Linked DNA regions of Homo sapiens. The protein of the gene in region 2 purifies or fractionates together with the protein of the main gene of each other region. This does not show direct contact. Each region holds a gene or a part of one and is shown on either strand. Other genes may lie near its edges.

Evidence for each region. Proteins that work in one complex are often made in the same cells at the same time.
Region 1: the proteins of RPA1 (region 2) and TOP3A purify together in Homo sapiens (affinity purification with mass spectrometry; 4 studies listed by BioGRID and IntAct, with this or other methods). This does not show direct contact.

What each region holds. Positions count from the first base shown.
Region 1 is NC_000017.11:18,273,395-18,277,143, forward strand, and holds part of TOP3A (DNA topoisomerase 3-alpha), read right to left. Parts: intron 1,587-3,749; coding exon 1,408-1,586; 3' UTR 1-1,407. UniProt on the Homo sapiens protein: Releases the supercoiling and torsional tension of DNA introduced during the DNA replication and transcription by transiently cleaving and rejoining one strand of the DNA duplex.
Region 2 is NC_000017.11:1,881,873-1,885,621, forward strand, and holds part of RPA1 (replication protein A 70 kDa DNA-binding subunit), read left to right. Parts: intron 1-1,939; coding exon 1,940-2,072; intron 2,073-3,749. UniProt on the Homo sapiens protein: As part of the heterotrimeric replication protein A complex (RPA/RP-A), binds and stabilizes single-stranded DNA intermediates that form during DNA replication or upon DNA stress.

The sequences.
Region 1 (3,749 bases), about 16 Mb from region 2:
CTCTGCTCTGAGGGACCATCTGTGGGGTGAGAAGAAATTGGGCTCAGTGCTTACCATGTGGAAAGGGAGGAAGGGCTCTCCACATGGGACACAAGGGACAGCCATGAAGGACAGAGGCTGACGAGACCTCCCAGGGTGAGCTCCTTCCAGCACTGGCTGGTACCTGTTGCTTCTGCAAATGTTCCCCAGACCCTCTGCACTCTCGCAGGTCAGAGTAAAAAAAGGTTGGATTCTTTCATTTTAAAAAAAGTTTGAGACAGGGTCTTACTCTGTCACCCAGGCTGGAGTGCAGTGGTGTGATCATGGCTTGCTGCAGCCTCAAACTCTTGGGTTCAAAGGATCCTCCCACTTCAGCCTCCTGAGCAGCTGAACTAAAGACGTGTACAACTGTGCTTGTTATATTTTTAAAAATAGAGACAAGGTCTAACTATGTTGCCCAGGCTGGTCTTGAACTCCTGATCTCAAGCAATCCTCCAGCCTTGGCCTCCCTAAGTGCTGGATTACAGGTGTGAGCCTCCACGCCCTGCCGGGGTTGGATTCTTTTTATTTTTTTAAATTTTTAAATTTTTTTTGAGACTGAGTCTCGCTCTGTCGTCCAGTGGCGCAATCTCAGCTAACTGCAACCTCCGCCTCCCGGGTTCAAGCAATTCTCCTGCCTCAGCCTCCTGAGTAGCCGGGTCTACAGGCGCACACCGCCACACCTGGCTAATTTTTTGTATTTTAGTAGAGACAGGGTTTCACCATGTTGCCCTGGCTGGTCTCGAACTCCTGAGCTCAGGCAATCCGCCCCCCACAGCCTCCCAAAGTGCTGGGATTACAGGCATGAGCCACTGCACCCGGCCTGGGTTCTTTATTAAAGCAATGAATTCTGGATGTCCTGGCTTAACTAGATTAAGAGGGAATGAAGCTTCTTCTGAAGGATCAGTGTTACCACAGCCATTTCCTTGCATTACACCGTCCTTCTCAGGACGTCTATGAGAAGCCCTGGGCAGCCTGGACAGGGACTGCCCCATGAGTGCTGGTGGCTCACTTGGGGCTTTCTGCAGGTGAAGGAAGCAGCCCTGGGAGCTTCTTCCTTTGGCACACAGTGGGCTTCAGCTGGGACTGCACCAATCCTCTGCTAACAGCAACCATCCTTGGGGGGTCCGAGGGAGCAGCTGCGTGACTTTTCAGCAGTGGCTATGGTCACTCCTGAGGCCTGGGAAGAGGGTCACTGTCCAGCAGAGCTGGCCTGCTCCAGAGTGATCTGGACCTTGTGCCCCTTAACACAAGAAGGCCCGACTCCAAAGGCCAACACTGTCCTCTAAGTTTCCAGGACACTAAATGGCCACTTGGTCCTGGTTAACTCATTTCTAAACACAAAGGGGACAGGTCTGAGAAAGTGGCGTTCTCTACCCTACCCTGAGCTCATCTGTTCTGAGGACAAAAGGGACGGGTGTGTCCAGGCTGGTGGCAAAGGCTGCATTTCCGGGGTTTCTTTGCTGTGGACCCCATGTCTGAGGAACTGGCCCGGGGCCTTTTGCTTCTGGCTTCCGACTCCAGGGTTCTTCCTCTGTCTCCTGTCCAGGACGGGGCTCCAGAAGTCCCTGTCGGGAGAGTCAGGGGAGGGGTGAGGTTAGAACTGACATGCAGAAGTGGCAAGTCCTGAACACGGTGGCTCATGCCTGTAATCCCAGCACTTTAGGAAGCTGAGGGAGGAGGATTGCTTGAGCCCAGGAGTTCAAGATCAGCCTGGGCAACATGGTGAAACCTTGTCTTTAAAAAATGCAAAAATTAGCCAGGTGTGGTGTATGCCTGTGGTCACAGCTACTCGGGAGGATGCCTGAGCCTGGGAGGCTACAGTGAGCTGTGATCACACCACTGCACTCCAGCCTGGGCAACAGAGCAAGACCCTGTCTCAAAAAAAAAAAAAAAAAAAAAAAGAGCAGCAGACGATAAGGCTGAACCAACTTTTTTTTTTTTTTTTTTTTTTTTTGAGATGGAGTCTTCGCTCTGTCACCCAGGCTGGAGTGTGGAGTGCAGTGGCGTGATCTCCACTCACTGCAAGCTCCACCTCCCGGGTTCACGCCATTCTCCTGCCTCAGCCTCCCGAGTAGCTGGGACTACAGGCACCCGCCACCACGCCCGGCTACTTTATTTTTTGTATTTTTAGTAGAGACGGGTTTCATCATGTTAGCCAGGATGGTCTCGATCTCCTAACCTTGTGATCCGCCCGCCTTGGCCTCCCGAAGTGCTGGGATTACAGGCGTGAGCCACCGTGCCCGGCCTTTTTTTTTTGAGGTGGAGTCTGGCTCTGTCGCCTAGGCTGGAATGCAGTGGTGCAATCTTGGCTCACTGCAAGCTCCGCCTCCCGGGTTCACGCCATTGTCCTGTCTCAGCCTCCCGAGAGTAGCTGGGACTACAGGGACCGACCACCATGCCCGGCTAATTGTTTGTATTTTTAGTAGAGACGGGGTTTCACTGTGTTAGCCAGGATGGTCTCGATCTCCTGACCTCGTGATCCACCCGCCTCGGCCTCCCAAAGTGCTGGGATTACAGGCATGAGCCACCGCGCCCGACCGGCTGAATCAGTTTTTATACAGCCATGTACACCCCACCAGCCAGCCTCCCTTCACACTGTGTCCAACTCTGTAAGGTTGAGGTGCGATGTGCCTGCTGCCTTATGTTACCTGACACCTCTCCCTCAAGAATCCTAAGCTTTGGAGACATTGTCCCACACTCACTTGGTAAGTGGACTTTCATGCCGGCCCTTTTTACAGAGGCAGAAACCCAAGCAAGCTGGCCTGTGTGGTAGGGTGGGAAAGACAAGCAGCCTATGACCGGCAACCTGCGGCCCACCTCCATGCAGGAAAGTCCAGCTCTGGATCCCTTCCTGTCCCCTCAACAGGCCTTTCCAGACCAGCTGCTCATTTACCCAGGACAGTCAGTCAGCCAGCCTGGAGGTCAGATACCATGTCCTTCCAAGTGGGGAGACAAGAGGCCAGACTGCATCTCACTTCAAATGTGGGTCTCTCACTGCAATGGCCATCTCTGGGCCCCATTAGCACTGGTAGCCAGTTCCAAGTCCCACAGTTTTTACCAAACCTCTGGTTTCTTTCTGTGCATGCCGGGCTAGTGACACATGTGTAAGAATCATAGTCTGAGACTAAACTCCTTTCTAAAACAGGAACCCTATGAATGTAGGCAGGGACCATCTTGTTGAGCAAACTTGAGGCAGAGAGGCTAAGTCATTTGTTCAAGGTTATACTGCTGAGCTTTGGAACCAGATTTGCTCAACTCCAAAGCTCCCACTAGGCCTTTGGGTCATTCTCAGCTACTTAAGCTCTGTTGTGCACTGGAGCAGGAGGAACCATTCAAAGTGCCTCCACGTACACCATTCAACTTGATGCAATGTCCAGGTGCCACTTCTCATGACACCCAGTTCCCGGACATTGGCCCAAGCTGTGTCACCCTGGGCAGGTTCCTAAATATCATCGGGGTTGGCATCTTCATCTGAAGAAATGAGGCTGGGCCAGGCACGGTGGCTCACGCCTGTAATCCCAGCACTTTGAGAGGCCAAGGCAGGTGGATCACCTGAGGTGGAGTTCGAGACCAGCCTAACCAACAGGGTGAAACCCCCGTCTCTACTAAAAATACAAAATTAGCTGTGCGTGGTGGTGCATGCCTGTAATCCCAGCTACCTGGGAGGCTGAGGCAGGAGAATCATTTGAACCTGGGAGGTGGAAGTTGCAGTGAACCAAGATTGCACC
Region 2 (3,749 bases):
TGTAAGAAGGGCCGCCTTGACTCCTGACGAGTGATCTTTGGTGGCAAATGTCTCCTTGGAGCTTTTGAAACCGTGAACTTGTGTAGCTAGTAGTGGTGAAACAGATGGATGGGCCTTGCTGTGCCCCTGTGAGGGATTTAGCCGCTTACCTGACAGGAGAAGGCAGCTGTCTGCAGCTCAGGGTAACATCCATTCTGTTAGATGGTCTCTGTTTAAGGAACCTGTTCTTTGTGTGGTTACCCACCTTGGGATGGTATTTGGCCTTTCATCTCCGGCCAGCTCCTCTCCGCCACCACTGTGTTCCCGAGCCACTTTCTCCTTGGCCCCTTTTCCTTCATATCAATTGATGTGTGATCAAGAAGTACAATCAGTTTTCATAATAATTTAATACAAATTAATTTAGCTTCGATATTAGCAAAAGTAAAATTTCACTAAGAAGGTAAATCTACAAGAAAAAAGATAATGCCTTCTGATAAGTTGCTCTGGTTTATAAAATCTTTTGGGCCAGGCACGGTGGCTCATACCTTAATTCCAGCACTTTGGGAGGCCGAGGTGGACAATTGCTTGAGGCCAGGAGTTCAAGACCAGCCTGGCCAACATGGTGAAACCTCGTCTCTACAAAAAATACAAAAATCAGCCGGGCCTGTAGTCCCAGCTACTCGGTGCGTGCCTGTAGTCCCAGCTACTCGGGAGGCTGAGGCACGAGAATCACTTGCCAGGAGGTGGAGGTTGCAGCGAGCCAAGTTGGTACCACCACACTCCATCCTGGGTGACAAAGCAAGACTCTGTCTCAAAACAAAAAAACCACTTTTGGCTTCTGTATCAGGCATAGGAGGCCTTTTATGGAAACACTTTTGCTACCACGGTATATTGGCTGTCCGTTTCCACACTGGTACATTTCGGTGATGATCACCACGCAGCTGCTGCCTGAGAATGAGCATTAGCAGATTAAAGGACTACCCCAGACGGCCACTTTATAGCTTACGGGTTGTTGACTTTCCCAGTTTCTGATTTTAGGCCTGGGGTGGTCTGGCCACTGCCAATATGCAAGGCTAGTTTAAGAAAAGATTCTTTGGTACTTTGGCACTGATTCTCTTCACCACTGGGGGGCATCAAAGCAACTGAGATTCAAAGAAAGGTCATTCCGTTTCTTCAGTAGACTTTGGGCCAGGAGCAGTGCCTCACGCCCTGTAATCCCAGCACTTTGGGAGGCCGAGGGAGGAGGATTGTCTGAGTCCAGGAGTTTGAGATCAGCCTGGCCAACAGAGCAAGACCCCATCTCTTAAAAAAATTTTTTTTTCGAGACGGAGTTTCGGTCTTGTTGCCCAGGCTGGAGTGCAATGGCGCCATCTCGGCTCACTGCAACCTCCGCCTCCTGAGAATTGCCTACAAGTGATTCTCCTGCCTCAGCCTCCCGAGTAGCTGGGATTACAGGCACCCACCACCACGCCCGGCTAATTTTGTATTTTTAGTAGAGACGGGGTTTCACCATGTTGGCCAGGATAGTCTTGATCTCTTGACCTCGTGATCCGCCCGCCTCATCCTCCCAAAATGCTGGGGTTACAGGCATGAGCCACTGCGCCCAGCCTAAAAAAAATTTTTTTAATGGGCCTGGGCATGGAAGTCCCAGTTACTTAGCAGGGCAAAGGTGGGAGGATCACTGAGCTCAGGGGGTCAAAGCTGCCTTGAGCCATGATTGCATCATTGCACTCCAGCCTGGGTGACAGAGTGAAACTCTGACACAATTTTTTTTAATTTAAATATTATAAAAAATATATAATTACGAAGATACCAGCTTCAGCCGACATGACCGTGACCTGTGTGAAAGCTGGGCGGGTGGTGGGAAACCTGTGTCTGTCGCGTAGCAGCAAGTTGCATGTGGAGAAGCAGAAGCATGTCACATCAAGCGCTCGTCATCGTTATTCGTTCACGTTTTCAGGTTTGACGCAGAAGGACAAGCCTTAGATGGTGTTTCCATCTCTGATCTAAAGAGCGGCGGAGTCGGAGGGAGTAACACCAACTGGAAAACCTTGTATGAGGTCAAATCCGAGAACCTGGGCCAAGGCGACAAGGTACCCAGCATTCCTAACCACCTTCACAAAGGGCTGTAAAGTGTGCAGAAGGATGGATTTAGAAACTTGGTTTCCAGCACCAGCTGTCAGAGCCGTAATTCTTACCCGGGGCTGTGACCTGAGCGTGGCATGGGGGTTGAGAATCACTGGCAGAGGGAAGCAGCCAGGTGTGCTCATGGGAATATGTGTTACCCCTCAGGGGACTGGAGGCAGGAGAGTCTGAAGAACTCTTAGAGTCAATTCCTAGAGGGATCTTGGAGCAGGGGTGACAGTCAAGCTTTGTGGTATAATATCACCTGCTTTCGGGTCCACGTTTCTTTCCTGTGATCCTTCCTGCAAATTTAAGCGCCCACATATCAAAAAGATGTTTTTTGAGATGAGCGTTAGTCCGCCTCAGGTCAGACATGAGGCAGTTTCACGGGTGCTGTTCCTGGCTGTAGAATAGTGTATTAACCTCATAGGCTGAGAGCTGCCGGCATTCCCGGACAAGGATTGGCCCTGACATTTGACTTTTAGTTGCAGCTTTTTCCTTTCAGTGTTTGTATTTAATGACCCTCCTCCCATCTTGATCTAAGCCTGTGTTCTGCCAGCAGTTTAGTATTTAGATCATTTATTTCTCCTTTACGCCTGCTCTTTTATTTTCATCATATACAGTGTAGGTTTCATTCCTCCTGTCTCATTTCACTGTATACCCTTATCCATCATTGTCAACAGCAGCTCTTAAGTGCTCTTATAGAACATCTCAAGAATTAAACACTGGACAGATCCTCGTTGTCCTGTCATGGGACACCCACTCTTTCGGTTCTCTGTAATCCCAGCTACCCAGGAGGCTGAGGCAGGTGGATTACATGAGCCCAGGAGTTCGACTGAGCAACATGGAAGACCCCTTCTCTTGAAACAAAAACTTTATTGCTGAAAAATGCTGACAATCATCTGAGTCGTAATCTTCTTGCTGGTGGGGGTTTGTTTCAGGGTTGATGGCTGAGCAGTCACGGCGATGGTTGCTGAACATCGGCGTGTCTTTGGCAGTTTCTTAAAATAAGACAGCAGTGAAGTGTGCCACATTGGTTGACTCTTCCTTTCACAAAAGCTTTCTCCATAGCCGGCGATGCTGTTTGACAGCATTTTACCCACAGGAGAACTTTTTCAAACTGGAGTCTCTCCCTCTCAGGTCCTGTCACTGCTTTATCAGCCAAGCTTATGCAAATTCTAAATCCTTTGTCGTCATTTCAACAATGCTCACAGCGTTCTCACCACAAGAGATTTCATCTCAAGAAAGCACTTTCCTTGCCCATCGTAAGGAGCAGCTCCTTATCCGTTCAAGTTTGATCGTGAGATTACAGCAGTTCAGGCCCATTTTCAGGCTCCATTTGTAATTCTAGTTCTCTCGTTATTTTCGTCACATCTACAGATCCCTCCTCCACCAAAGTCTTGAAGCCTCAGTGTCTACCTTGAGGGTTGGAATCAACTTGTTCCAAACTCCCGTTGATGTTGGGATTTTGATCTCCTCCCATGAATCATGAATGTTCCTTTTTTTTTTAACTTGAGACAGGGTCTCATTCTGTCACTCAGGCTGGAGTGCACTGGCTTGATCACAGCTCACTGCAGTCTCAACCTCCCCAGGCTCCCAAGCTGGGACTACAGGTGCTGCCACACCTGGCTAATTGTATTTTTTGT